Homo sapiens: one gene and its partners. The protein of the gene in region 2 purifies or fractionates together with the protein of the main gene of each other region. This does not show direct contact. Each region holds a gene or a part of one and is shown on either strand. Other genes may lie near its edges.

The links.
Region 1: the proteins of VIPR1 (region 2) and SLC25A17 purify together in Homo sapiens (affinity purification with mass spectrometry; 2 studies listed by BioGRID and IntAct, with this or other methods). This does not show direct contact.
Region 3: the proteins of VIPR1 (region 2) and HACD2 purify together in Homo sapiens (co-immunoprecipitation; 3 studies listed by BioGRID and IntAct, with this or other methods). This does not show direct contact.
Region 4: the proteins of VIPR1 (region 2) and ARL6IP5 purify together in Homo sapiens (affinity purification with mass spectrometry; 2 studies listed by BioGRID and IntAct, with this or other methods). This does not show direct contact.
Region 5: the proteins of VIPR1 (region 2) and SLC7A2 purify together in Homo sapiens (affinity purification with mass spectrometry; 2 studies listed by BioGRID and IntAct, with this or other methods). This does not show direct contact.
Region 6: the proteins of VIPR1 (region 2) and PTDSS2 purify together in Homo sapiens (co-immunoprecipitation; 2 studies listed by BioGRID and IntAct, with this or other methods). This does not show direct contact.
Region 7: the proteins of VIPR1 (region 2) and XPO6 purify together in Homo sapiens (affinity purification with mass spectrometry; 2 studies listed by BioGRID and IntAct, with this or other methods). This does not show direct contact.

The regions. Positions count from the first base shown.
Region 1 is NC_000022.11:40,808,775-40,813,174, forward strand, and holds part of SLC25A17 (peroxisomal membrane protein PMP34), read right to left. Parts: intron 1-4,400.
Region 2 is NC_000003.12:42,535,290-42,538,402, forward strand, and holds the end of VIPR1 (vasoactive intestinal polypeptide receptor 1 isoform 1 precursor), read left to right. Parts: intron 1-53; coding exon 54-95; intron 96-800; coding exon 801-992; 3' UTR 993-2,279; downstream 2,280-3,113. UniProt on the Homo sapiens protein: G protein-coupled receptor activated by the neuropeptides vasoactive intestinal peptide (VIP) and pituitary adenylate cyclase-activating polypeptide (ADCYAP1/PACAP).
Region 3 is NC_000003.12:123,490,750-123,495,149, forward strand, and holds the end of HACD2 (very-long-chain (3R)-3-hydroxyacyl-CoA dehydratase 2), read right to left. Parts: exon of another isoform or gene 4,222-4,400; coding exon 4,139-4,221; 3' UTR 805-4,138; downstream 1-804. UniProt on the Homo sapiens protein: Catalyzes the third of the very long-chain fatty acids (VLCFA) elongation four-step cycle (condensation, reduction, dehydration, and reduction).
Region 4 is NC_000003.12:69,094,268-69,098,667, reverse strand, and holds part of ARL6IP5 (PRA1 family protein 3), read right to left. Parts: intron 1-4,400. UniProt on the Homo sapiens protein: Regulates intracellular concentrations of taurine and glutamate. Negatively modulates SLC1A1/EAAC1 glutamate transport activity by decreasing its affinity for glutamate in a PKC activity-dependent manner.
Region 5 is NC_000008.11:17,499,858-17,504,257, forward strand, and holds part of SLC7A2 (cationic amino acid transporter 2), read left to right. Parts: intron 1-1,456; exon of another isoform or gene 1,457-1,524; intron 1,525-2,399; 5' UTR 2,400-2,445; intron 2,446-4,400. UniProt on the Homo sapiens protein: Functions as a permease involved in the transport of the cationic amino acids (L-arginine, L-lysine, L-ornithine and L-homoarginine); the affinity for its substrates differs between isoforms created by alternative splicing.
Region 6 is NC_000011.10:453,005-457,404, reverse strand, and holds part of PTDSS2 (phosphatidylserine synthase 2), read right to left. Parts: intron 1-4,400. UniProt on the Homo sapiens protein: Catalyzes a base-exchange reaction in which the polar head group of phosphatidylethanolamine (PE) or phosphatidylcholine (PC) is replaced by L-serine. Catalyzes the conversion of phosphatatidylethanolamine and does not act on phosphatidylcholine.
Region 7 is NC_000016.10:28,100,384-28,104,528, forward strand, and holds part of XPO6 (exportin-6), read right to left. Parts: intron 1,563-4,145; coding exon 1,464-1,562; intron 1,306-1,463; coding exon 1,075-1,305; intron 1-1,074. UniProt on the Homo sapiens protein: Mediates the nuclear export of actin and profilin-actin complexes in somatic cells.

The DNA of each region.
Region 1 (4,400 bases), on a different chromosome or scaffold from region 2:
GATCCCTAAAAGTCCCCAAATCCTTTCTAGGAGGTTTTGTAGGATTAAAAACCTTTTCATAAGAATCATTATGAAATAATAAAATGCTATTTGCCTTTCTCATTCTTATTCTCTCACAGTGTGTAGCAAAATTTTCCAAAGGCTATGCATAAATGTGTGATATTGCAACAGACTGAATTCAGAAGCAGATAAAAGGATCCAGCTATCTTCTATCAAGTCAAAGAGAGGTTTGCAAAACTATACATCAATGCCATTCATCTTATGACGTTTTGGAAAATATGGTTTAAAAAATATAGCTTATGTATGTTAACATGTAATGGATGTATTTTACCTTTTTTTTTTTGTAGAGGCGAGACAACATTGGAATTTTAGGTATGAGCAACCACACCCAGCTAATGTATTTTTAATGATTTTTAATGAATTAACAAATATCTTGGCCGGGCTCAGTGGCTCATGCCTGTAATCCTAGCACTTTGGGAGGGCGAGGTAGGAAGACTGCTTGAGGCCAAGAGTTCAAGACCACCATGGCCAACAACATAGACCACATCTCTTTAAAAAAACAAACAAACAAAAAGGCTCACACCTGTAACCCCACTTTGGGAGGCCGAGGTGGGCGGATTGCTTGAGCCCAGGAGTTCGAGACCAGCCTGAGCAACATGGTGAAACATGTAGAAACCCAGTCTCTACAAAAAAATTAAAAAAAAAAAAATTAGCCAGCGTGGTGGTGCACGCCTGTAATCCCAGCTACTTGGGAAGCTGAAGTGGGAGAATTGCTTGAGCCTGGGCTGTTGGGGCTACAGTAAGCTGAGATTGTGCCACTGCACTCCAGCCTGGGTACACAGTGAGACCCTGTCTCAAAAAAAAAACCAAAAAACAAAACCAAATATCTCAATGATTTCTCAGTTTTAATTTCTAACACAATAATATTGATTGTTATAACCACATAAGCAAGACTCTGGGGTTGGTGAAAATTTTTAGGAGTGTGAATGGGTCCTATGAGTATAGTTTGAACAGAGGCCATTAACTACAAAAAAAATACATTATTAACAAACTTCATTATTATATACTATCATCTAACCTGACATCATCACACTACCTCTGGGTTGGCCACTGTCCTTTCCAGGAAAACTCTATAAAAAGGTAAATACCTCCAGGAAGCTATATATTATATAGGATATTAATTATATCCTACAATTAATGTCTTACAGATGATCATTTATTAGGGTTTTTTTAAAATGATGGGCTGTGATATTATGATGCAAAGTATATATCTGGTCCTCATCCTAGGCTCCTGACACAGAGCTCCTGGTAAAATTCTTGTAATTTCCTGAATGATAGGAATGTCTTTTGTTATAATAGTGTCTTAGTCCCTGGTTCCTGATACAAGAGCATCCAAGACCCTTGGAATCTCCAGAGTGCTAACAGTGTCTTTTTGTATACTGGTGGTCCCTATCTTTTAGTGCATTAATTGCATCTTCAGCTGTATCTAATATGTTCAGAAATCTGTGCTTGAATCTGAACATATCACTAAGCTTCAACAATTAACAAATTCATAGCTATGCATTAAATATTCTTTTTTTTTTTTTTTTTGAGACAGAGTTTCACTCTTGTTGCCCAGGCTGGAGTGCAATGGCGTAATCTCAGCTCACTGCAACCTCCGCCTCCCGGGTTCAAGTGATTCTCCTGCCTCAGCCTCCTGAGTAGCTGGGATTACAGGCATGCGCCACTACGCCCGGCTGATTTTGAGTTTTTAGTAGAGACACGGTTTCTCCATGTTGGTCAGGCTAGCCTCAAACTCCCAACCTCAGGTGATCCGCCCACCTTGGCCTCCCAGAGTGCTAGGATTACAGGCGTAAGCCACCGAGCATTAAATATTCTAATAGTAAATTTTTAATCGATCAAAGCAAAGCATGCACATAGTTTAAAAAATCACATAGTATAAATGACAAAATATAGCAGTTTTTGCCCCACTCCTCTCTATTTTATCCAATCTTCCTTCAGAGAGGCAATTAAATTCTTCTAGTTGTTTGTTTTGGAATTTATACATCTCCATATAATAATATACTGATATCTTATTAATCATTTTTAGACATTATTTACATTCTCTTATGGGGAATGAGAATTCAGCTCTCTTATACCACATTCCCTCTTTTTTTGTGGTTATTGTTTTGAGACAGGGTCTCACTCTATTGCCCTGGCTGGAGTGCAGTGGCACAATCTCAGCTCACTGCAACCTCCACCTCTGGGTGGAGGTCAATTAATCCTCTCACCTCAGCCTCCCAGGTAGCTGGGACCACAGACGTGAGCCACCACACCCAGCTAATTTTTGTATTTTTTGTAGAGACAGGGTTTTGCCATGTTGCCCAGGCTGGTCTTGAATCCCTCTCTTTATTCTCTCCATCCTTCTAATAGTTAAGATTTTTGCTTAAATCAATATTCAGTGTTCCCATGATTATCATGTATTAACTTTTATTTTTAATTTTTGTTTTTTTTTTTAGTAGAGATGCGGTTTCACTGTGTTGGTCAAGCTGGTCTCAAACCCCTGGCCTCGAGTGATCTACCCGTCTCAGACTCCCGAAGTGCTGGGATTACAGGAGTGAGTCAATGAGCCTGGCCAATCGTGCAGTAACTTTTAAATTGTAGTCATTTTATTTCTAGATTTCTTTTTTTTTTGAGACAGGGTCTCATTCTGTCGCCCAGGCTGGAGTGCAGTGGTGCAATCGTGGCTCACTGCAACCTTGGCTTCCCAGACTCAAGTGATTCTCCAGCCTCAGACTCCTGAGTAGCTGAGACTACAGGTATGAGCCAGCACAGTGCTGGCATCTGCTTCTGGTGAGGGCCTCAGGTGGCTTATGATCATGGTGGAAGGTGAAAGGGGAACAGGTATGTCACATGGTAAGAGAGGGAGTAAGAGAGAGAGGCGTGGGTACCAGGCTCTTTTAAATAACCAGCTCTCCCATGAACTAACAGTGAGAACTCACTCATCACCAAGGGGATGGCACCAAGCCATTTATGAGGGATCTGCCCCCATGACCCAAACACCTCCCACTAGGCCTCACCTCCAACACTGGGGGTCACATTTCAACATGAGATTTGGAGGGGTCAAACATCCAAACTGAGATTTGGAGGGGTCAAACATCCAAACTGTATCAGTCACATAAACGATTTTTAGCCTAAGTTCTTGGGGATTTGGGGGTTCCTCTTTTTTGTGAACAATTCTGAACTGACACCTGGATTTCTTTCTTTTTCTCTTTTTCTTTCTCTCTCTCTCTCTCTCTCTTTCTTTTTAACTTATTTATTTTTAGAGATGAGGTCTCACTACATTGCCCAGGCTGGTCTCAAACTCCTGGCCTCAAGTGTTTTGCCTGCCTCAGCCTCTCAAAGTGCTATGATTACAGGCGTGAGCCACCACGCCCAGCCTGGCACCTGGATTTCTTAAGAATGCATCATCATCTACATTTCAGGCTACTTACTAAAAAAAAAAGATGGTTTATTCATTCTGGGCTATATCTCTCCTGTAAATATCTAAAGTATACTTTTTAATTTGGTCAACACAATCCACATATGAAGTTGGGCTTACAGATAGAGTAAGAATGAAACACTGGGTAAATCTGGTCAAGACTTGGTCCCCCCAGCGTGTGCAATCTTATGGGAATAATAGATAAGAACATACATAAATACAGAAGCATATTTTCATGCCTTTTAAGCATAAAACAATGATGTTTGGGTTGGTATACCAACCAAATCACCAAATGTGACTGACTGTTTCTAAAATGTTGATTCATCCTAGCAGGGTGAAAACTAGTGGTGGGGGTAAAAAAGACAATGCTAGTCCAAAATCAGTTTCCAGAGGGGTCCCGACGTGGCTGAGTCACAGCAGCACCACTGAAATCAATGTATAGCCTCTCCTGATTTAGAACACTGCATTATAGAACAGAAAGATTATTTTAAAGCCAGACACGGTGGCTCACACCTGCAATCCCAGCACTTTAGGAGGTGGGAGAATGGCTTGAGCTCAGGAGATTGAGGCTGCAGTGAGCTGTGATCATCCCACAGCACTCCAGCCTGGGAAACACAGTGAGACTTAGTCTCAAAACAAATAAAAATTTAAAAAAATTTTTAAAAACCACCTAAGATGTTTTCTGTGGTTTGAGCTAATAAAATTCTAAAGATTAAAAGCCACTTACAATGGCTTTCATATTTAAAAATGTTATTCACCTCATCAGAGTTAATGTAAGTCTTTTCCCTGACATAACAATCAAGCTAACTCATACATACACAGACAGATAGGCAAGTTACACAAATGGCCTCATGGATGACACTCTCGAGTGTTTAGGGATAAAATATAGGTTTACGTCCCAAGTATAGTATATATTACATAAGTAACTTCAAATCTCTAT
Region 2 (3,113 bases):
GCTGGGGGCTTCTGGTCTGTCTACCTCACCTCTCCTGTCATCTTCCTTCTCAGGGTTTTGTGGTGGCTATCCTCTACTGCTTCCTCAATGGTGAGGTAAGCCCCTCCCAGTCCTTGGGGCTTAGGCAATGGAACTCCCAGGACCAGGGTCCGGAAACATTGGTGGGATATGTGCAGAGCAAGGACGGGTTAAACCTTGCTGCTCCAAGTATGGTCCTCAAACTAGTAGCACTGGTGTCACCTAGGCCCTTGTTAAAAATGCGCATCTCTGGGACCACCCCAGACCTGCTGGCTTAGAATCTGCATTTTAATAATTATTTTAAAAAACAAACAAACAGCTTTTTACTAAACCCCAGGGGGATTCCTGTGCACAACAGAGTTTGAGAAACACCTAGTTAAGTGGCTGTGTGCAGTGAGTGGGGAGGGATGAGGGCTTCCAATGAAGGTTGAGTTGCTGTGGAGCTCTGGTTACATTGCACAAAAAACCCACTCAAGTGAGCTGGAGACCCAGGATGGGAAGAATTGGAGTACAGTCACCCCTAGGCAGCATCCCTCCCTCTCCCTGGACTGTATTCTAGGATCCTCTCTGCCTCTTACCTCCTGCCATTCCAAGGCCTCCTTCTGAACCTGGCCTCAACCCAGTCCCAAGTTTGCACCGCCCGAGGCAGCATAGGGGTCCCTCCATTTTGATTTCCTAAAGAGAATAAGACTGGCTAGTTCAGAACCCTAAGTCCAGGGCAGCCCAATCAGCAGTGGAAGAGGCTCCACAGCAGTGGGCCTGACCACCTTCCCCTCTCCTAGGTGCAGGCGGAGCTGAGGCGGAAGTGGCGGCGCTGGCACCTGCAGGGCGTCCTGGGCTGGAACCCCAAATACCGGCACCCGTCGGGAGGCAGCAACGGCGCCACGTGCAGCACGCAGGTTTCCATGCTGACCCGCGTCAGCCCAGGTGCCCGCCGCTCCTCCAGCTTCCAAGCCGAAGTCTCCCTGGTCTGACCACCAGGATCCCAGGGGCCCAAGGCGGCCCCTCCCGCCCCTTCCCACTCACCCCGGCAGACGCCGGGGACAGAGGCCTGCCCGGGCGCGGCCAGCCCCGGCCCTGGGCTCGGAGGCTGCCCCCGGCCCCCTGGTCTCTGGTCCGGACACTCCTAGAGAACGCAGCCCTAGAGCCTGCCTGGAGCGTTTCTAGCAAGTGAGAGAGATGGGAGCTCCTCTCCTGGAGGATTGCAGGTGGAACTCAGTCATTAGACTCCTCCTCCAAAGGCCCCCTACGCCAATCAAGGGCAAAAAGTCTACATACTTTCATCCTGACTCTGCCCCCTGCTGGCTCTTCTGCCCAATTGGAGGAAAGCAACCGGTGGATCCTCAAACAACACTGGTGTGACCTGAGGGCAGAAAGGTTCTGCCCGGGAAGGTCACCAGCACCAACACCACGGTAGTGCCTGAAATTTCACCATTGCTGTCAAGTTCCTTTGGGTTAAGCATTACCACTCAGGCATTTGACTGAAGATGCAGCTCACTACCCTATTCTCTCTTTACGCTTAGTTATCAGCTTTTTAAAGTGGGTTATTCTGGAGTTTTTGTTTGGAGAGCACACCTATCTTAGTGGTTCCCCACCGAAGTGGACTGGCCCCTGGGTCAGTCTGGTGGGAGGACGGTGCAACCCAAGGACTGAGGGACTCTGAAGCCTCTGGGAAATGAGAAGGCAGCCACCAGCGAATGCTAGGTCTCGGACTAAGCCTACCTGCTCTCCAAGTCTCAGTGGCTTCATCTGTCAAGTGGGATCTGTCACACCAGCCATACTTATCTCTCTGTGCTGTGGAAGCAACAGGAATCAAGAGCTGCCCTCCTTGTCCACCCACCTATGTGCCAACTGTTGTAACTAGGCTCAGAGATGTGCACCCATGGGCTCTGACAGAAAGCAGATACCTCACCCTGCTACACATACAGGATTTGAACTCAGATCTGTCTGATAGGAATGTGAAAGCACGGACTCTTACTGCTAACTTTTGTGTATCGTAACCAGCCAGATCCTCTTGGTTATTTGTTTACCACTTGTATTATTAATGCCATTATCCCTGAATCCCCCTTGCCACCCCACCCTCCCTGGAGTGTGGCTGAGGAGGCCTCCATCTCATGTATCATCTGGATAGGAGCCTGCTGGTCACAGCCTCCTCTGTCTGCCCTTCACCCCAGTGGCCACTCAGCTTCCTACCCACACCTCTGCCAGAAGATCCCCTCAGGACTGCAACAGGCTTGTGCAACAATAAATGTTGGCTTGGATTGGCTTGGTTCCCCTGGTGGTTGATATTCTCATATGGCCTAAAATGGGACCAGCTTCCAACTTGGAGCCATCTTCCTCCACCCAAAGGATGGGTGATCTAATACATTACTGAAACCAGATGCCTCAACTCTTTTGGCTTTTGACAGAAATCCATATTTTCATATGAGGCATTCACAGTTCTGAGGGCCTTCAGCTCCCATCTTTTTGAGTGGTATCCTCTCTCCTCTGAGTGTGATGAAGACCAGGTCCCCATTGTGTCCCCCCACTCCTTAAATCCAGCCAAGAAAAGACCATTCTAATCTCAGATCAATACAAAACAGCTGGCAGAGCTGCCCAGGGTCCCAGAAATGGTTGAGTGTGAGTGTTTCACAGGCCGCAGACATTGCTGCAAACAAGGGTCTAGGATGACCATGTTGCAATTACCCAGGGCTCAGCTAAGAGGAGGTAGGTAGTGGACAAAACAAATGTCACCAACACAAGTTGAGTGAGCAGAGACAATATGGCACTAATAAAAAGGTTTAGACACAGAGGCAGTATGGCAAATATCATCAGTCAGCAAGAGATGTCTCCAAAGCCGTTCCCATGCTGACCTCCTTGGGTCCCACCTCCTGCAAACTTGCTAGAGGAGCAGGAGAGGGATGTCAAGCTGGTAAAATGTGGTCAGAATGGGCTGGCAAAGGCTCATATCTGCCTGCCCAGCTACTTCAATGCCTTGTCTGACCCAGTACCATTCCAGGACCCATCATCAATGACAGTTCCAACCCAGTATCCTCAGAGGCCAGAGTCAGGGGTGTTCAGGCCAGAATAGAAGTGACTGTGAGCCATGGGCAGAG
Region 3 (4,400 bases), about 81 Mb from region 2:
GCCTGAGTAAGGGGGGGCCACTCCTGGGATTCCTGTGTTTGGAGGCATTTTCAGAATGAGGTACTTGAACTTCACCACATCTTGCTTTAATGTAAGATGAACAGTGCTGGGCAACAGGATCTCCCGCTGAACTTCTGTTAGAAAAGTTACACTAACAGGCTGGGCGTGGTGGCTCACACCTGTAATCCCAGGCGTGGTGGGAGGCCAAGGCGGGTGGATCACCTGAGGTTAGGAGTTCGAGACCAGCCTGGCCAACATGGTGAAACCCCATCTCTACTAAAAATACAAAAAATTAGCCAGGTGTGGTGGCGGGTGCCTGTAATCCCAGCTACTTGGGAGGCTGAGGCAGAAACATCGCTTGAATCCGGGAGGTGAAGGTTGCAGTGAGCTGAGATCGTGCCATTGCACTCCAGCCTGGGCAACAACAGCGAAACTCTGTCTCAAAACAAAAAAAGAAAAGTTACACTAACAAAACCCCAGCTTGTTATAAGACAAGGTTCCTCAACCCCATGCTGATTAATATCTTAGATTCCCTGGTCACTTGCATGAGGAACCCCTTGTCCCTCTGCAGCCAGCTTGCAGACTGGCTTAGCCTGAAGACTGACTGGCAGGGAAGGACTTTTTGGAAACCTCTTAATATAATCTGTCTTTCCTGTAAGTGCAGAACCATTATGAATAGCAGAATTAGATTTTAAAATTGTCAAAGAGCTGGAGTCCATAATTGAACTGAAATTCTCCCATATTCCTGCAACACCACATTCAGGCCTACTGACTATGAAAAATCACTGCACTCACTGGTAGGTATTTCAAATCCAGGCAGAGCACACACCAGTTTATTTTGAAATGCAACACAGATCAGTATTTTATGAATACAACTTATTACTACATTATCAGGTAAAAACAGCTTTCAAATGCATGCATAGAAAGTTAAGCGTAGTCTCTGGACTCCTTATTTCTAAATATACAAAAAATACATTTAAATTATATAATTTTAGTGAATCAAAGACTTATAAAATTACAATTTTGGTTTTCACAACATAGAAAAAATACAAAAATGACTATATATACGGTTGTACAATTTTTTACCCAAATTTCAAAGGAGCAGTATGTATTGAATTTAATGTTTTATAATGTTTTATCTGAAACTCAGAACTGCAAGTAATTTGCAGGTTGTACCATATCAATGCCAACCTTTTATTATAAATGAATAACCAAAAAAATAAGTGAAAAATGAGGGCACGATCTCTTCTTACACCTCTTCAACTCTCCAGCATCTAAACCTTTCCTGTCAGAAGTCTGCTCTGGAGACTTTTTTCATCTGCAAGGACAGTGCTTTATTCCATGACTAACTCTCCATGGTGCCTCTGGATAATGGTTGGTATGTGTTAAATGAATAAGCCCAACCTCAGCAAACAGAACGCAGCAAGATGTAGATTAGCAGTCTGTGCTGACAAAAGCACTACTGCGGACCTCAAAGAATTCTCTGTCAGAAGAAGGCCCCCACGGAGGGATCTGAAATACATAATCAAGTGGGTAGTTGGGAGGATGATGCCTTTGACTATGCCCTGAAATGAAACCTCTAAGTCTGACAAAATACCCACAAAAACATGACCTTCCTTGTTCACACTTTATAAGAAGGTGTGACATTTGGTGGTGTGGTTGTTCTCAATTTATAAAATAATAAATGACTTCAAAGGAGAAATGAATTCATGTTAGGGATAAAGAAACCAGTTACTGAGAGAGGTTACTGAAGGACACAGTGACATGCCTTACTTATCTGCCATAAGTATTCTAAATGTTGATGTACAAAAATACACACTGGGGTTGAGACCCTTTTTGAAAAGGGAGCTGTGTGCTGTGTTCTCATTGCCAAAGTTCAATTCAATGCAACACCACTGTTTGCAACAGAATGTTTTTTATAAGTAGTGACAAATTATAATAAGGAGGCCCAAATAAAACCCCCAGTCCAGCAACCCTGGAAAAGCTGCATTTTTCATCCTGATTTCTAGAATTTTTCCAAAAACAACTGAAAAAATCTAACAGAACAAAGTAAATGACAAATATAACCCAAGTTGATTCTATTTTATAGTAGAAATACATTATGGAAGAATAAAATGAGAGAAAAGTCATGCAAAAAATCTTTCCCACATATTTTGTCTATCAAATACAAGAATAGATTCTAATTTCAACATGTCCAAGTTGAGTGCTGACTTTAAGAAGCAGAATTTTAATGTTCAATTCAAAAATAATTTATTACACACCTGCCTGCATTAAATTTTCAAACTTCTATAAAAATAAGCACTTAAAAATTTAGTTTTCCAGGGGTTGGGTGCAGTGGCTCATGCCTGCAATCCCAGCACTTTGGGAGGCTGAGGCGGGTGGATCACGAGGTCAGGAGATCAAGACCATCCTGGCTAACACGGTGAAACCCCGTCTCTACTAAAAATACAAAAAAAATTAGCTGGGTGTGGTGGCAGGCACCTGTAGTCCCAGCTACTCAGGAGGCTGAGGCAGGAGGATGGCGTGAACCCGGGAGGTGGAGCTTGCAGTGAGCTGAGATCGCGCCACTGCACTCCAGCCTGGGCAACAGAGCGAGACTCCGTCTCAAGAGAAAAAAAAAATTTAGTTTTCCAGTATGAGTTTTCTGATATTCGCAATTATATTTTAAATGACAACTACTCAATAAGCTAAACTTTTAAACTCTTAAAGTTCAACATCAACCCCCACCCTGCCCCCAAAAAAAGGCAGCTGCAGGGGATGGGGGAGGAAAAAAGGCTCCATGAAGAAGATACTGTGCTATTTAATACTTAATGCACATCTAAACTTGGGCTTTCACATTTTCATCCAACTCTTTCTTTCTTATTTTTTTTCAGTTTACCTACAGTTGCAGTACCAATCCTTTCTTGAGGAGTTTTAAATGCATGGTTGAGCAATTAAATTGTATGAGGATGTGACATGGATTAGACAATGTCGGTAGTACCAAACTATTTCTTGGCTGCTCCAACATGCGGAGATGACACTGCTTTTAGCTCATGACAGCCCAAGGGGAATGTTTTACTGACTATGGACTTATAGCTTGGTGGAAATTAACATAGGAAGTTAATTAGCAAAAGTATCCAAACAGAAGAGTGAATGAAAATTTAAAAATAAAACAATAATGGTGTATAAATCTATTCCTGAATGTTTTTCCTGACTACCTTTCTAAAGCAACACCTTCCATGTGCTTTCACTAACACAGCCTCCTTTCCTATGTGACTGGATCCGCTTCTTCAGGGCCATCAGTGCATCAGTGAGAATAGCTACTGGCAAACACGTTACTCAGAGGTGTTCTGAGAATGGTGCTGTGAAAAGGACTTGTCACTTTTGAGCTATTGAGCTCCCCCTTTCTGAGACCTGTCATTTTGTTAAGACATGATTGAGGCTGAGCTCCAGATAAGATATATTCTTTACGGTACACACATACTTATTAGATTCAAGCACGTTTCTTAGTGGCAGGCAGTAATGACTCAATTGGAAACAAACAAAAGGGTTCTAAGTTGTTTTCTGATTACAGGCACTACCCCGAAGCTTCATAGACATATACATTTTATAATTCATTCATTAGATGTGAGGGGATAGGTCCCAGCCATAACTTCAGAGCATTCCAGAGAACAGAGTTTGCCGCTTCAAAAATACAAAGTTTCCAGCATGCAGTCAAGCACTTTGACAAGGGAATGCTAAACACACTGCAGACTGAAACATAACTATACTGCAAGCTGGGCTATTCAGCTGGTACGACTTCATTATTCAGACTGTAACTCTCAAGTACTTAGTGTTACAGGTCTTCATTGATCAGATACATGAAGGACACAGAAGGACATAAAATGCCAAATCCCTTTCTAGTGCCATCATAAATATTAAGAACTTCTGGTTGAAAGAGCATGCTGAAATGAACTGGCCAGGGTGTTTTATGTAACAACCTTTTTCTAAAATAAAATCTCAGGCCCATGTGACACTGGATTTTTGTTTTAGTTTTGTTTGAATATTTTAAAAATAGTTCTTACTTATTTTCTATGAAACGTATTGGGAACTCAAAAAATCTGCAGCATTTTTTGATCATTGAAAAGTTTGTTTTGGTGGGAGGTGCAGAAAGCAGGAACTATTCAAATTTCTTGTGTTCTTCAGTATGAGAAAGGATCTTTCTTCTCTGGTGTATCATGTGGAAGTATAACTGGGGAAAAACTGAAAAGAAAAGAAAAATTGGTTAAGAGGATGGTTTAAAATTGCATATGCTCTATTTAAAGCATATGAAGTTGAGGTCCTCTCTGACCCTCTGACTAATTTCTCATCCAGCAACCAAGGAAGGTAACAAAGTGGGCTTGGGGAAAGGAAGAAAAAACACAGAGAGACTTACCTCCTTT
Region 4 (4,400 bases), about 27 Mb from region 2:
GTAATCCCAGCACTTTGTGGGGGCCAAGGTGGGTGGATCTTTTGAAGTCAGGAGTTTGAGACCAGCCTGGCCAACGTGGTGAAACCCCACCTCTACTAAAAATACAAAAATTAGCTGGGCCTGGGCTGGGCATGGTGGCTCATGTCTGTAATCCCAGCACTTTGGGAGGCTGAGGCGGGCAGATCACCTGAGGTCAGGAGTTCAAGACCAGCCTGGCCTACATGGTAAAACCCTGTCTCTACTAAAAATACAAAAAATTAGTTGGGCTCGGTGGCGGGAGCCTGTAATCTCAGCTACTCGGAGGCTGAGGCAGGAGAATTGCTTGAACCTGGGAGGCGGAGGTTGTAGTGAGCCGAGATGGTGCCATTGCACTCCAGCCTGGGCAACAAGAGCAAAACTATGTCTCAAAAAAAAAAAAAAAAAAAAAGCCAGGTATGGTGGCAGGCACCTGTAGTCCCAGTTACTTGGTAGGCTGAGGCAGGAGAATCACTTGAACCCGGGAGGCAGAGGGTGCAGTGAGCCGAGATTGCGCCACTGCACTCCAGCCTGGGTGACAGAGTGAGACTCTGTTTCCAAAAAAAAAAGAAATAGAAATTTCTATAATTAGTATATTATTTCATAATCAGAAATAAAATGAATATATAAAAAAGGAAATACAAAAACATAAAAGCAGCTGCTCTCCAACCCACAACCGCCGCTTGGCACAGACCAACCACAAAAGTCCATCTCTACTTGTCCCATCTCGCCAACAACATTAATGGAATTTCAGTTCATGAACCACAGCGAAGCTGTTCCTTCTCCAATCCAAATCCTGGTTTTCTGCTCATCCTCCAGATCCTCTTGTGCCAGTCTATAGCACCCCAGTGCCCCAACCTTCCCCAATACCCAGCACATGTGCTATTCTCTCTGCCCTCTTCCCCTCCCTCTTGGTTCTGTGTTACCTGGGTCTACTTGGCCTCTCTGCACTTTCTTTCTGTTTTATTTTATCTGGATTATGCCCTGTCTTCTGAGACAACCCCGGAATTGGTCTGGGAAAGAAAAAATTCCCTTATACGCCTGAGGAAGGAAAGAATCTGATGAATCAAAACCACAATCCCCTTCAGCAGGTTGTAGAGAGTGGAGAGTGAATGAAGAGGCCTTGAAACTCTTATAGATTAATATTATCTAATTCCCAGCATCACAAAAGATTCTAAGCCAGTGTGGTAGCTCATGTCTGTAATCCCAGCACTCTGGGAAGCCGAGGTGGCGGATGCATCGCTTGAGCCCAGGAGTTTGAGGCCATCCTAGGCAACATGGCGAAACCCCATCTCTCCAAAAAAAAAAAAAAACACCCCACAAAAATTAGCCAGGTGTGGCAGCACACACCTATAGTCCCCACTACTTGGAAAGCTGAGGTAGGAGGATCATCTGAGCTCAGAGGTCAAGGCTGCAGGGAGCTGTGATGGTGCCACTATACTCTAGCCTGGGTAACAGAGTGAGATCCTGTCTCAATTAAAAAATAAAAAGATACTTAGAGAAACTGAAAAATTATACCAAAGACTACAGTATAGTAGGATAAGGGGAGTTTATTTCCATTTGCTTATTTTTATTTTCATATTTTTTTCAATGGCCATGTATTCCTTGATGAATAAAAAAAATTGGTATTTAAAAATGAACAAATGAAATTGGGGAAAGGCTCCTGAATGTAAAAAACCCTTTACAAAGCCTTGACTTTGACCTATAACCTACCCAAATGTTTCTTCTGAGCCGTAAAGAAAAACAAAGATCGCCAGGTACAGTGGCTCACACCTGTAATCCCAGCACTTTGGGAGGCTGAGGCAGGTGGATCACAAGGTCAGGAGATCAAGACCATCCTGGTCAACATGGTGAAACCCCGTCTCTACTAAAAGTACAAAACTAAGCCTGGCTTGGTGGCATGTGCCTGTAATCCCAACTACTTGGGAGGCTGAGGCAGGAGAATTGCTTGAACCCGGGAGGCGGAGGCTGCAGTGAGCCGAGATTGTGCCACTGCACTCCAGCCTGGGTGACAGAGCGAGATTCCGTCTCAAAAAAAAAAAAAAAAAAAAAAAAGCAAAGCAAAACAAAGATCAAATCAACACAAAGAACTCAAATGGAGGATTGAAATTCAAGGAAATTCCTTTGCATACCCTGCAAGTAGGAGTGGGTTGGCTGGCAGCAAAGCATCAAAGGGCTCCTACTCAGTTCATTCTGGAATACTTATTAAAATAATAATTCATGAAGTGAAGCATATAACAAAATTCATGTCAAGCTGTTTTTATTTTCCTCTAGACAAGTAAAATACATATTTAGGTTGAGTGCCTAAAGTCCAGGACAAGGAACAATGAAAAATCCAGGCCTAACTCAAGCAATTCCAAATTTGTTTCACCTGTTCTGGTTGCTCATGTCCAAGAGAAAAGAACAGAGCCTGAAGTTCTATAGAACTGGTTTTAGTTCATAACCTGCCCAACAACAGTCTATAATTAGAAAGCAAGCAAGTTTCCAAGCTGGAAAAAAACTAACGAAGTTACTCTGAGCAGAAATTATTTTCTTCTGTATCTGATAAAATGTATACCACTCCAATGCCCTGGCACTTACCTGTATTTGGAACAAAAGACAGACAGACAGACAGACAGACACACACACACACACCCTCTACAGATTAACAGAAATTCTCAGAAATCTGGGAACCAGTTCTTGCCTGAGATGCTTTTTAGTCAACAGTTGGGCTGTTTATCACAGCAATCACGACAAACCCCAAAGACTTTTAGGACAAAACTTTCCATAAACATGCCACCCATCTTTCATGTAGACAGCTGCCTCTGTGGTCTGCTGGGTGGAGTTTCACTTACTGATAGTCCTAGAGTAAGAAAGAGGGCTGGGTGCGGTGGATCATAACTGTAATCCCAGAACTTTGGGAGGCTGAGGTGGGTGGATCAGCTGAAGCTAGGAGTTTGAGACCAGCCTGGCCAACATGGCGAAACCCCATCTCTACTAAAAACATAAAAATTAGCTGGGCGTGGTGGCGCATGCCTGTAATCCCAGCTGTTCAGGAGGCTGAGACACGAGAATCACTTGAACCTGGGAGGTGGAGGTTGAAGTGAGCTGAGATTGTGCCACTCCAGCGTGGGTGACAGAGCCAGACTCCGTCTCAAAAAAAAAAAAAAGAACGAGGGATGGTGAGAAAGAAGGGAGAAACAGCAGGACCTAGTTTTGCAACTCAAAAACCGTTATGTTTTTCTATTGTGAAATTAAAAATATATTAATACATATGTTTGTATATATTTTAATTATATATATTTAAAATATGAACATGTATTACCCAATTCCAATAAATAATTAATAAATCTTTCCCTATAATAGTTACACATTCTAGAGCAGTCATTTATGGTTATAAAAAGGTTTAGAATCCCATCACAGAAATTTTGTAGCAGTCTTCAAAGATGAATCAGTCTAGTCCAATTATACAGATAACTAAACTGAGGCCCAGAGAAGAAACATATCCAAAGGGATCCAGGAGAGAAACAAGAAAACAAGGGTGCCAGTTGTGGCAGCAACTCACAGTAGAACCCATTCTGTCATGTTAACCGGCTTTAAGGATTTCCCCCACACTCTAAGTAACCTACTATAACCAAGGATCATCCTGGAAAATCCCTCTGCACTCTCATTTCTCTCTGAAACAAGGTGGCTATTAGTGGGTGTGGATACAGGTCCTAAACTTCCCAACGTGATTCAGTAGCTATGTCTATAGTTTTACCACAAGTTACTGAAAGGGGAAAAAAAAATCTCACAAAATTTTAGAGCTAGGAAGGATCTTGCTAACCCACCTCATTTTACACGTAAGCAAGCTAAAGAATATACAAGTTAATAAATTTGTCCAAGGCCACCAATTGCAAAGTTGGCAATAAAAGTTTGCCATAACAGAAATCCTCGGATCAACTCAAGGCCACATTTGGTGACTCCTGTCAGGCTGCAAGGCCAAAAAGAACCACCAAAGAGGCAGCAAAATATTTCCTGAGGAGTACAGGCAGCTTTGCACTGAGTTCCAATTTTCTAGCCGAAAAAGCTATTTTTGAAGTGTGGTTTCTGAGGAAGGCTGACTCACCGAAAAAGTGGGGAACAATATACTCACGGTGGACTTCTCTAAATTGGCGATGTTTCTCTGTGGTCCTTAATCAGCCAGAGGGATCACTGCAAATATGAACCCACCCAACCATTTTCTTTTCATTGTTCTTAAACTAAAAACAGAATTCTTTAAACATTCTACAAGGCTTCGCAGGGTCTGGCCCCTGCCTGCCTCTGCAGCCAGGGCCACTGTATATAGGTGTGGAGTTGGTGCCTGGCTGAGGGGGTAAGTGGGGCCTGGAATCCAGGTCACACACTCCACAAGCCAAGGCCAAAAT
Region 5 (4,400 bases), on a different chromosome or scaffold from region 2:
TTGTTCTTGTCATTGTCTTCCATTTTAATAACTTTTCATTTTAGTACCTAATATAGTATGTGTCACATAACACATGCTTATATGTCTTTATTGTTGAGTGAATGCCACTGATTTCAACAGTTTGAGAAAAGATGTTTTATCTGTCTTCAAATGTATTTATTCCTTCATTGAAAACTTACTTTCTACTCTGTACACTGGAAAATCAAAAAAGTAATGTGTAACTCCGGTTTTAGAGGGATTCTATAATTATGTTTACATTTGGGGAACTCCATTGATGGATTTTAAGAGCAGTTTTTTATTTTGCTGTACTCTATTAAAAAATACCACCACTTCTAAGCAGACGATTTCAGACCTGTCTGTGCCGCAAAGCAAGTAATTTACATGCTCTCTCTAATACATGAAGGCGATGCTACTATTTCATCATCAAAATCACATGTGCTGGACATTTTTATTTTACTAGTAGTAACAAATTTGTCCGCATTCCTCTTATATTTCCCTTTTACTTGACTTTCTAGCTCTTGTTTTAGAAGTGGTGTTTGTGGTTATGGAAATGTTGTGGATGATATTGACAAAACGCAGCCAAATCGGGCAGATCACTTGAGGCCAGAAGTTCAAGACCAGCCTGGCCAACATGGTGAAACCCCGTCTCTACTAAAAATATAAAAATTGGGTTAATAGGTGCAGCAAACCACCATGGCACATGTATACCTATGTAACAAACCTGTGTGTTCTGCCCATGTATCCCAGAACTTAAAGTAAAATAAAAAATAAAAATACAAAAATTAGCCAGGTTTGGTGGCAGGTGCCTGTAATCCCAGCTGCTTGGGAAGCTGAGGCAGGAGAATTGCTTGAATCTGGGAGGTGGAGGTTTCGGTGAGCCGAGATCGTGCCACTGCACTCCAGCCTGGGTGACTGAGCGAGACTCTGTCTCAACACACACATACACACACACACACACACACACACACACACACACACACACACACAGAATCCCAGCCAAGTAGGAGTTCATTTCCATCAGGCTTCAATTAGTTAAGGTAATCACAGCATGAATCACCTATTAATTTTTCTTGTCCATCTTAGTAATGGAAACTGTTATATATCAGTCTATGGAAGCAAGCAGTATGCTGTTGCTTTTCACATTCTTATCGACTTTTTTTTTTTTTTCTGTTTTGAGACAGAGTCTCGTTCTGACGCCCAGGCTAGAGTGCAGTGGTGCGACCTTGGCTCACTGCAACTTTCACCTCGTGGGTTCAAGCAGTTCTCATGCCTCAGCCTCCCGAGTAGCTGGGATTACAGGCGTGTGCCACCATGTTCGGCTACTTTTTGTAATTTTAGTATAGATGGGGTTTCACCATGTTGCCCAGGTTGGTCTCGAAATCCTGGCCTCAAGTGATCCGCCTGCCTCGGCTTTCCAAAGTCCTGGGATTACAGGCCTGAGCCACTGTGCTCGGCCTCTTATGGACTCTTAAAGTTTAAATATTTCTGAGAAAGGCCTCTGCTGCTGTTACGCTGACCTCACTGGTAAGTATAATTAGTATTGACTTGAGAGAAGATTTGAGTTAATAAGGCTATTTTAGAGGCTGGATTTGAATATGTGGGTCACGTCTCTTATTTAGACTTTTAGTATTATTTAGACTTTTATTTAGACTTTTAGTATGAATCTCTCTCTTCAGAGACATGTGGTCCCCTGTTATTCTGGGTGTGTATGGATGTGATGTGTTGTGGAAAATCTTGAAATTTCTTGATACGGGACTTTATACACCCAAGACTGAATCATGAAGCTGGAGCATTCTAGTGCTGCAAATGTCATGAATTTAATTTTTCACCGTATCCCCATCCTCCTGCAAAACATAAAATATAAAATATGTAAAATGAGATAAAAAAATGAAAGCAATACCCACACACCCATTCTGGCACTGCTGCGTACTAGCCCCCCTCTACAGAACTGAGCCTAATCTGGGATTCAGTATCGGGAAGGCGAGTGATGCGAGAACATTCCATGACCTTTGTAACAGGAGCTTAAAAAAAAAAAAAAAGTCCCAACTGTGTTATATTCATTTTTGGAATATTTGGTGAACAATACACAACAAAGAATTTGTATGTCCCTTGTTGATTCTTACTAGTTTTTCCCACAGTTGTGGGGAAAATTCTCTTCTTTCCTTAACCCATTTTGGCTTCATCAAGTCCTCCTAAGTCGTCCTACAATTATATATATATATGTATTCCCACCATATGTATATATAATTATATATATACGTATATATATGTATGGTGGGAGTATATCTGTGGCTAAGGTGAGAGGATCGCTTGAGTCTGGGAGGTGGAGGTTTGAAAAAAAAAGAATGGAGAAATCACATGAGTCCTTTAGTTATCACTCCCATCATTGCTTCTCCCAGCAGGAGACTCTCTGAAGACCAGCAGGAAAGCAGTGAGCCCTTACAGGTTAGTGCTGATTTCAATCTTGGCTTGCACGTTGGAATGGAAAAAGGACTGATAAAAAAAAAATGTTGACAGTGGAAAGATTTGTGCCTATTCCATATTAGAGAGGGAAGAGTTCTTCTGTTAGAAGGGAACACATTCAGTTTAGTGTCCTACCATTGGCCTAGTAGAAGAAAAAAATATTTTAAAAGAATCTTTACTGGACTTCAATTCCTATAAGATATTGCTCTTCCATTGCACAAGGAAGATTTCCATGAAGTTACGGAGTTGAGTATCACTGATTCACTTTCCAGGTTCCTGGTTCTTGTGAATGTACCTTTTAGAAAATTTTTGATAATCATTCCTGAGAGGTTGGGTGGAGGGGGTTTTGGACAAGAAATTGATTCACAGTTTTTAGTCTACTCAGGCAGATTATTTAAAGGAATCCTGGAATGAGTCCATTTTTCCTAGGGGAATCACTTCACAAGGTTTTTGTTCAATGGACCTCAGGTGCTCCAAATTCTTTAATCATAATTCTTCACGGCACACTGCTATAATACCATGATTGGTTCTTACATGGGCAGTAAATAGTATTCATTTTAGGTCTTGGGTTGGGTGCTGGGTGCATGTTCATTATATTATTATTTAAAAATATTATATAAGTTAATAAAATTTTAAATGAACTTTCCATAAGTCAATTCGTAAATAAAATTTTCACAAATTTCTTCTGTGTGTTTTTGCTTCAAGTAGAAAACATCTCTATTTCTATTTATTTTATTTTATTTTTTTTGAGACAGAGTCTCACTCTGTCACCCAGGCTGGAGTGCAGTGGCGCGATCTCGGCTCGCTGCAAGCTCCGCCTCCCGGGTTCACGCCATTCTCCTGCCTCAGCCTCCCGAGTAGCTGGGACTACAGGCGCCCGCCACCACGCCCGGCTAATTTTTTGTATTTCTAGTAGAGACGGGGTTTCACCGCGTTAGCCAGGGTGGTCTCGATCTCCTGACCTCATGATCTGCCCGCCTCGGCCTCCCAAAGTGCTGGGATTACAGGTGTGAGCCACCGCGCCCGGCTGAAAACATCTTTATTGAAAAAAATTTTATGCTTCAGAAGGGTGGCTTTTTCTTTAGATCGCGAGTTTTTTCCTTCCTGAAATTCACTTTATATTCACTCCCGCGGTGTTCCTTATCTGTTCTAGCAAAGAGTACTTATTATTCATACGCGGCGCTCATAGTTCGCAGAATATTTGCAGCTTGCCAAGGTACTTGTCCTGACAAAAATTCAAATGGCAACTCTTCATGATAATTTGTATCAAAGAGTACTTATTATTCATACGCGGCGCTCATAGTTCGCAGAATATTTGCAACTTGCCAAGGTACTTGTCCTGACAAAAATTCAAATGGAAACTCTTCATGATAATTTGTATCAATGTGGGTATGAATTCCTGTGGGAAAAGCCTGAGCTCAAAGCTTTAGGCTACTCTGTATGGACTTTTTGTTTAATGATCATATGAAACAATACAATTTTATATTTATGTTTGAATTCACCAGCAAGTTTTAAGTGGTTTCTTTAATTCAGTTGTGATTTAAGCAATTGTTTGGGAGACGTCTTTGCTCTTGAGTTCTGGGGAAACCTAGAAGGAGCCTGGGGTGAGTTTTGACCCTCCATCCTTAAGTCCTCAGCAACACTCAGGTGTGTTTTGGCCACATGAGGAATTTACCTTTGTTCCACAGCAGCCTATGGCAAGAAAGTGAAGTCACATTGGCTGTGATTCCCCAAGCAAAGTGAGATTTCGATTTCAACTCAGAGGCCTGGCGTTTTGCATTGATCTGGACCTTTGTGAAGGCATTGGTAGAAGAATAACAAACTACTAAGAATTCAGTTTATTGATCATCCTGAAACAAAATGGCACTGCTGAGTGTTTAGTGAGCCTCAGTGAGGAGTAAGTATTGGGCACCAGCTGTGTGCCCTCTGAGAATGTG
Region 6 (4,400 bases), on a different chromosome or scaffold from region 2:
GGCACAAAAGAAACCTCCCATCTGCTGTCACCCACACACGACTCAAGGAAATGAGTTTGCATCCACGAAAAGCAGACTGGAGCGGAGACACGGGCCTTCCGGATGATGGAATGTTCTGGTGTGAGCGTGGTTGTGGCGGTGCATGGGCGTGTCACCTGCACGTGGGTGCTGCACTGAACGCACCCACACCTGGACTTAGCCGATTTCATGAAGAGCCAGGGTGGAGCTGCAGGACTGCAGGTGGAGGCTCCAGGCTGGAACTTTCTGTATTTTTTGTGCAGATGGGGTCTTGCCATGTGGGTCAGGTTGGATTTTTTTGTATTTTTTGTAGAGACGGGGTCTTGCCATGTTTTCCAGGCTGGTCTCAAACTCATGAACTCAAGGGATCTGCCCACCTTGGCCTCCCAAAGTGTTGGGATTACAGGCATGAAAGTGAATTCTTCTGCCATATTTTACAATACTAGGCATTTAAGACAACCAGAGGTAAATAAAAGTTTCATTGTGACTATCAACCACCTTTTTCTTTAGATACATTTGCATTTGAGTCCTAAGCCATGAGGAAACCGCAGGGAACCTCAGCCTTCCTGCTGAGCTCCACACCGTGGGGCCCTTCAGTACTGAGAGACCTGCCCACAATCACAGCAGAGAACCCACGTCAGAAGGCCCTCTTAGGCCCCCATTCCTAAGGGTGCCTGGATTCGGCGACCCAGAAACTCACCCTCTGCTGAACACTACACTTACAGAACGTGTCCTCCTGGAGACAGCCCTTGAGGGGAAACGGGCTGGGCTCAGCTGGGGCCCAGGAGTCCCCTTGTCCCTGGCCTGCCCCTCCATGAGGCCCACCCTTTCCTCCATACAGGTGACATCAGATTTCGGTGAGGAGAGTAAGATGACCCCGGTTAGGATAAGAAGAGTCAGGAGTGTTTGGGGGCAGGTACCGTGGCTCACACCTGTAATTCCAGAGCTTTGGGAGGCTGAGGCAGGAGGATCACTTGAGCCCAGGAGTTGGAGACCAGCTCGGGAAACATAGTGAGACCCTATTTCTACCAAAAAAAAAAAAAAATTAACTGGATGTGGTGGCGCATGTCTGGTCCCAGCTACTTGGGAAGAGGGAGGGTGAGGGGAGATTACTTCGGCCCAGGAGTCGGGGACCGCAGTAAGCTGAGATCACATCCCTGCACTCCAGCCTGGGTGACAGAGTGAGATTCTGTCTCAAAAAAAAAAAAAAAAAAAAGAATGAAAGAAAACAGAAAGAAAGAAAAACCAAAACAACAAGCAGGTTTAGATCGCAAAGCCAACGACGTGATGACAGCCAGGAGCGCGGTGGCTCTGGCTGTGTCCGTGCCCCGGGCCAGGGCACCTTCATGCCGTGTGCGTGGTGCCCGCAGGCAAGTCAGGGCCGGTAAGTGACACTGTGAAGGTCATGCAGCAAGGCGGGGGGTGGGGCCCGGAGCCTCCTGGACACTGGGCCATCACAGCCATTCCCTGAGCCCCCGCCCCAGCCACACCCGGGAGAAGACACAGCCTGCGTTCCTGAGCCTTCCTTCCAGTGGAGTGAGACCAATACAGGAGAGCTAAGAAACCCTACACGTTATAGAGAAAAACAAAAGAGGGATGGGAGTGGTTAGGGAGGTTAAAACAACTATTTTTGTTGCAAAGCCAGGTCCCAGTAAAACCACGCCAGGAGGGCTCGTGGCCTGGGAGGCATCTCCGGAGACCATAGCAAGAAGGGAGCGCGAGGAGCAAGCACTCTCGGGCTCAGCCTCCATCCCCAGCAGTTCTGAGAAACAGCAGGGACCTCTCCAAAGGGTGCACATGTCTGAAGTGACCTTTGGAGGAGCCAGGGACAGTCTCATCCTGGGGCTTCCTGACGAGGTCACCTTGTAGGAGGAACAAGGTCAAGGGGCTCCAGACACCCAGAACCCCGCCAAGGGCCCACAGCACAGACAGACAGGGTGTGGTGTGCACGGGAGCAGGACTCTGCCTGGCTGGAGTGCAGATGCCGGGACAGGAGCCTGCTGTGAGGGAGGCCTCCAGTGGGGAAGCTAACAGGGCCTCCACAGGACCCTGTCTTGGAACCACACGGCCACCCCACGTGAGGGGTTCTCACTCTGGGCAGTAATGTCTCTAAGAAAAGAGGGGTGAAGGAGCCCCAGCCTAAGGGAGGCTAACCGTGGAAGAGACAACAGCCCATCAACCTGCTCACATGCAGAATGGGAGACCCAGAAGCTAGATCAACGTGAGGACACCACTCAACCCTGTTCTGCAAGAGACCAGCAGGAAACCCCTCGTCATCTCCATGTGGGCTCAGGAAGAAGATGGAAACGACCAGGCCTCAGGGACACCCAGAATGCCACCACTCCACACACAGGCCCACTGGAGGAGGAGGCTGCACTCGGCCCCACCCTGACCCTCGGACGTGCCTGCAACCCAGTCAGCATCTCCCAGATACAGCACAGGCTCCCATTCACATGCAGAATCCCAGGAATAAACGCAAAGCTCAAGGGATGGGGTGAGCAGCCTGTGTCCCACCAGCACCAAGTTCCACAGCACACAAAGACAGGATCACACACTAACACAAGTTAAAATTGAAACTTGACTTCTTTTTTTCTTTTTGAGATGGAGTCTTGCTCTGTCACCCAGGCTGGAGGACACTGGCGCGATCTCTGCCTCCCAGGTTCAAGCGATTCTCCTGCCTCAGCCTCCCAAGCAGCTGGGATTACAGGCGCCCGCCACCACACCCAGCTAATTTTTGTATTTTTAGTAGAGACCGGGTTTCACCATATTGGCCAGGCTGGTCTTAAACTCCTGACCTCGTGATCCACCTGCCTCGGCCTCCCAAAGTGCTGGGATTACAGGCGTAAAACTTGACTCCTTTAATACGACTTTCCACGACAGAGACCTTCCTGTGGTTTCTAAAGTGGCCACCAACCCAACACTCACTCCTTGTGTAGCCCAGGGAAACGCTGATCATTGATCAACCCTAACCCAACACCATCTTTCCATTTCCCCAAAACACAGAGATTACCTGAAATATAAAGGTAACCCTTCGCCCCTTCAGGTAAATGTGCACACTGTCATTGAGGTGGCCACCGAGTGCCCAGCACCCTCCTGGCCCTGGGGAAGCAGAAATGGGAATGAAGAGGACCCAACAGGAAGGGAGGCAGAGGGTAAGGGACCCAGAGAAAGGGCACCAGGCACAGCAGCCCTGCAGGAGGACACATCTCAGAGCTGCTCAAATCCAACGCTCCTGGAAAGTAAGGTCCGTATTAGTGAGCTCCAGTCCTTGTCCTACACGCAGCACGACGTCTACACATCTTGGAAGTGACAGAGTGCCGCTCAAGATAGCATGAGACTCTCAAGGGAAGAATTCCGTGTCCCTCCCAGGACGCCAGGTCTGTTCAATGGCTCCTCCCACCCGCCTGCAGACTCTGCAGGACGGTGTATGTCCTGTGATCAGACACAGAACAGAGCTGTGATCAATCCTGGCAATTCAGCCACTTCACTAGGGTGAGGGCGTGAAGACAGCTGGCTCCCTGCCATGGGGAGTGGAAAAGACCCAGCTGCCTCCTTGGAGATGGTCACTCTCATGTCCACTCTCATGGTGGGCAGGGAGGCCGAGACCAAGAGGAAAACGCGGCGTCGTCGTCCAAAGGGCCAAGGAAAGGCCACGCCTGGATGGGCAGCCCAAGGCCTGCGAGAGGCTCCTGGACCGGGCACTGGCCCTTCTGGCTCTGACCAGCAAGACCAGAAAGACTTCATCTGGCTACTCGCGCCTCCCAGGTGTAGGCAAAGCTGGGAAAGCCCCGATCCAGGATGATGGAGAAAGGCATCTTCCAGAAACCTGGGGTATCTGAAGGTCAGAGGTCACCTCACACATAAAGTCCTCAGGTCACTGAGAAGGCTCATTTGAGGCACCCCATTCCAAGACACAAGCATACAATAAAAACTCTCAGAACATCACAGTGGCCCCCAGCTCGGGAACTGGTTAGCAAGTGTGGTCATCCGAAGCTGCTTCAGCGTCTCCCACAGACAGGCGGCAACGTTCACAGGCACCTCGCCAGGGTAAGGGGTCCCCAAGTGTTCTCCCAAACAATTTCCAGACCGCATGAGCTGCCACATCTTCGCACAGGGCTTCTCGGAGTCTGTGGATCTAAACGTTTTCCTCTGGATGTTCCCCATAATTGTCCTTGCTACCCTGAATGAATCCAGAGAAGGAGAGCTCAGCCTCGTGCTCCCAGGGCCAGTCAAGCCCTGAATCGAACCGCACGCCCTATCCCTATGGCTGACAAGCAGTCACAGAGAAACAAAATTCACACATGGCCGCCGTCACTGGCCCGAGGAAGTGCACCCATCCTTGAAAATGAACGCCCTGGCTGGATGTGGTGGTGCATGCCTGT
Region 7 (4,145 bases), on a different chromosome or scaffold from region 2:
TAGAAAAAGGAAAAAACATATCCAGGGGCTGAAGTGAACTGGAAGAGGCTTAGGAGAGAACAAGTCCCAAGAAAAGGAAGACCCCAAGACAAAGGAGAACAGGATGAGTCTAAGCAAAAGCTTCCCTGCCACACGTGGCAAATGAGGAAAGCAGGCGGCCAGGTTTGCACCAGTGAGAGCAGTGTGTGCATCTGAGCACTACGGTGGAGCCGTGGACAAGCTGCTTCACAGAGGACTCAGGTCAAGAACCCCAAGAGGACCAGGGAGAAAGCGATTTCTTTTCCTAATTTCATCAAGTATAAAACGGTACAAGGAAAAGTTCCCAGAAGTTCCTATCAGGCAAGAGAGAGGCCTGGTCACCTGACACAGGAAGAAGAGAACAGGTGAGCCCCATGGGGAAGGAGGTCCCAGGCACTGTCAGGCTCCAACAAGATGGCCTCATGGACACCAAGAGCCAGCAGCACCCAGCTCCCACCGAGGTGCTGCACGGGTGGGGACAGCCCACCTGACAGTCCCTGCACAGGTGGCAGCAGTGGGACAAGAGGGTGAGTACTAGGAGGGCTCCTCCCAGGACCTGGCAGCAACTCAGCCCAAGCTGAGCTGGGGCTGGTCTGGAAAGAGCCCAAGACAGCCGGGGAACCTGGGTCCCACCTCTAACCCTGGGGACCCAGAAGTGCAGCTCCCAAGCACCAACCATCTCAGCCTGAATGCAAGCCTGGGCACACTCCAATGCTGGCCCCACCGGGGCTCATCACCCAGGAGGGAGAACGGCAGGGTCCTGGGTATGAACAAAGATGCCAAGACAAATGGAGGGGCTGCAGAGCCAGGAACTCGGGACCTCCATGGCTGAGACTAAGAACATACGTGCTACAGACACCAAGACTGGGGAAAAGGCTGTGCCCCTCAATCAGGCTACAGCACCAGGTCAGCAGGCATCTCGTGAGCTGCCGCCAAGCTGCAGGGTGGGCACAGACCACGCCCAGAGGCCTCAATGTGCCCCCTCCTTGCTGCACAGGTGCCAGGCTTGCGTGCCCACTCTGCCCTCCTCTTAGCCCGGCCTCTTTCTCTCCTCACCCGATCCATCTTGAAATTCCGCCCCAGCACACTTTTCTGGTTGGCATCCACACCATCACAGCTGGTCAGGAACTCTGGGAGGAAGGCGGCAAAGAAGCCATCAAAGTCGACTGAGGCCATGTTGTAGATGGCGATGCCAATCTCCTCCTGCAGAAGATCATGGGACTTGTGGACCAGGACCTGGAGCAGCACGTTCACAAACTGGAACAGCATGGCAGTCCGGAAGATCTTCTGCAGGCAGAGAGACCAGGTGAGCAGCAGCCAGCCCCCAGGGGCCTGTCCCGGGTCCCATCCACTTTCTGTCACACTCTCCAGTGAGTAACCTGAGGGTGGGACACAGGCCACAATGCCCCTGATGGAAGAATATTTCCAAGAGCTGGGGCACTTACCTTGTGGTACAGCTTCTGCTTGGTGTTGAGAGTCTCCAAGTAGAAGAGATTTTGTTTAAAAAGGTGGATGTCGGGCTGGAGAAAGGACTGTCCGAAAGCCTAGGAAATGAGACCACCATTTTATAAACTGCAAGACCAAGCACTTCTGGAGCATCTACCCCATGTCAGAAGAACAAGTGCCAGGGCCAGGGTACCCATTGTCTTGATGCTTCTGGCCCACCAGCTCAGACCTCTACGACGCTCCTCCTAAGTCTCAGAGTTCATGTTTTCCCCACCGGGCCTTGCTTCTTATTATGGTCTCATATATACCTTTTTTAACAAACCTCTAGAAACCCATCACAGGACCTGGCTTTGAAGCAAGAAGCTCACACCTCTAGTCAAATCCCTCAGCAATCCTGGCAGACAGACACCAAAGCCTGCCTGCCTGCTCCTGCTCAAGCCAAGCAATCCCCTCCCTTGCCCTCCTTCTTGCATCCCCCGTCTCAAAAGCCACAAGCCCTACAGGCTCCTTCATGGAGCCTCCACCTGGAGGTTAAGCCTCTGCCTGGGGGCTAAGCAAAGTATTTTTAAACTGCTTTGGAATTCCTGGGTGTAAAAGTTACTAGTTCAGTCCAGGCACAGAAGCTCAGTCCTGTAATCCCAGCACTTTGGGAAGCCGAGGTGGGCGGATCACTGAAGGGTGGGAGTTCAAGACCAGCCTGGCCAACACGGTAAAACCCCATCTCTACTAAAAATACAAAAATTAGCCAGGCGTGGTGGCGGACGCCTGTAATCACAGCTACTCGGGAGGCTGAGGCAGGAGAATCACTTCAATCCAGGAGGCAGAGATTGCAGTAAGCTGAGATCCTACCACTCACTGCACTCCAGCCTAGGCAACAGAGCAAGACTTATCTCAAAAAAAGAAAAAAGAAAAAAATTACTAGTTCAGGGGCAAAAAGAAACACCCCGCACACCAACACAAAGTGCCCTGCTCCAACAGAAAGAATAGAAAGTGACCATGGGGGCAGTCGGGGAGGCCGGTGGTCTGCAGGACCCCCCTACAAAACAAGTGGTGACTGCTTTGTCATTCTGTCCCTGGGCCCCTAAGCTACCAGAGGAGGATCTTGTAATCCCTGCAGCAGGGATGAGATCTCCATGATGACCAATAGTTTCCACTTATTTACTGTTTAAAGTTAGGTTCATGGAAGTATAACAGAGTAAACTTTTGAGGTTTATCTTTCTATGAATTCTGACCTACCTGTGGATTTGTACCACCACCATCACAACCAAGACAGGACACTTCCATCACCTGGAACGTCCCCTCACACCCTCACCCCTAAGGCAACCACTGCTCATTATCTGTCCCTGTGGTTCTACCTTTTCCAGAATGTCATAGAATGGCATGGGATCCTACCATGCATAGCCTTTGGCATCTAGCTTCTTTCACCTGACAGAATGCATGTGAAACTCATCTATGCTGCTGATTGTACCAAGAATCCATGCTTGCTTATTGCCGAGTGCCAGTCCCTTAGAGGCATGCACGAGCCTGTTCATCCATTCAGCTGCTGGATACTCAAAGTGTTTCCAGCTTTGGCAATTATGAAACAGCTTCTATAAACATCAGTGTACAGGTTGTGTGAACATATGCTTTCATTTATCTTGGGTAAAATACTTAGAAGTGAGACTGCTAGGTCATACAGTAACTACACACTTAACTTTAAAAGAAACTGCCAAACTGTGAAACTATTCTCCAAAGTGCCTTTCACCAGCCCTCAGTGGGGACCAGGCACCAGCGTGCCAAAGAAGTCTTCCAGGCAAGGACAGGGTTCAAGAGAAAGGCAGGGGAGGCGCAAACACTTGAGTACTGCAGACCTGAGGCCTCGGTGGGTGCCAGGGATGGGAAGGCCAGGGCAAGGGCACGTGCCTGAAAAGAACTGCCACACAAGAGTCAGTATGTGTGTGTGTGCGCGCGCATGCGCACGTGCATGCCTGTGTGCATGCTGTGTGCTAGTAGGGAGCTGGAGGGAGGGTGGAAATCCCTCTTGCTTCCCCATGAGGAAAAGCATGCACTGAAAATACCAAAAGAGACTCCCCTAGCTAGACTCAGATGAGAACGTCAGACACTTGAGTGCAGACCCTGGGAGCGTGCCTGACACAGCCACAGAGCAGGCTGGCTGTCTGGGCGAGGTGATGCCGTCCCAGTCTTCCACAGCAAGGGGTATTTAGCCCCCAGACAGTGCACTCTCTCCAATGGACAGCTGCATCTGCCCTGAAAGCGAATGCTCCCTCCCAGGGCAGTGTTTCTCCCAGTATGGTCAGAGTCAGAATCACAGTGCAGGTCTGGGGCCCTCCTGCGGAGACTCATATTCAGGCAGCTCCCCGCTAAGAAGGCCCTCGGTGACTCTGGCATAGGCAGGCTCTTTACACTTGGGGAAACAGCACTATGAGGTCAGCGGAACTGACGTTTATCAAGCATCTCCAAGTGTCATGCACTTTGTGTATGTCATCTCATTTAACCTCACAACAAACCTGTGACCCAGGCAACATTAGCTCCACTTTGCAGATGAAGAAACTGAGGCTCCAAGAAATTAATTAACTTCATCAATACTAACAGGCAGAACTGAGCTTCAGACCCGAGACTGTGGGGCTTCGAAGACAGGACTCGCTGCAGTGGTCAGGTTAGAGGAAGTCACCTGGCAGCAA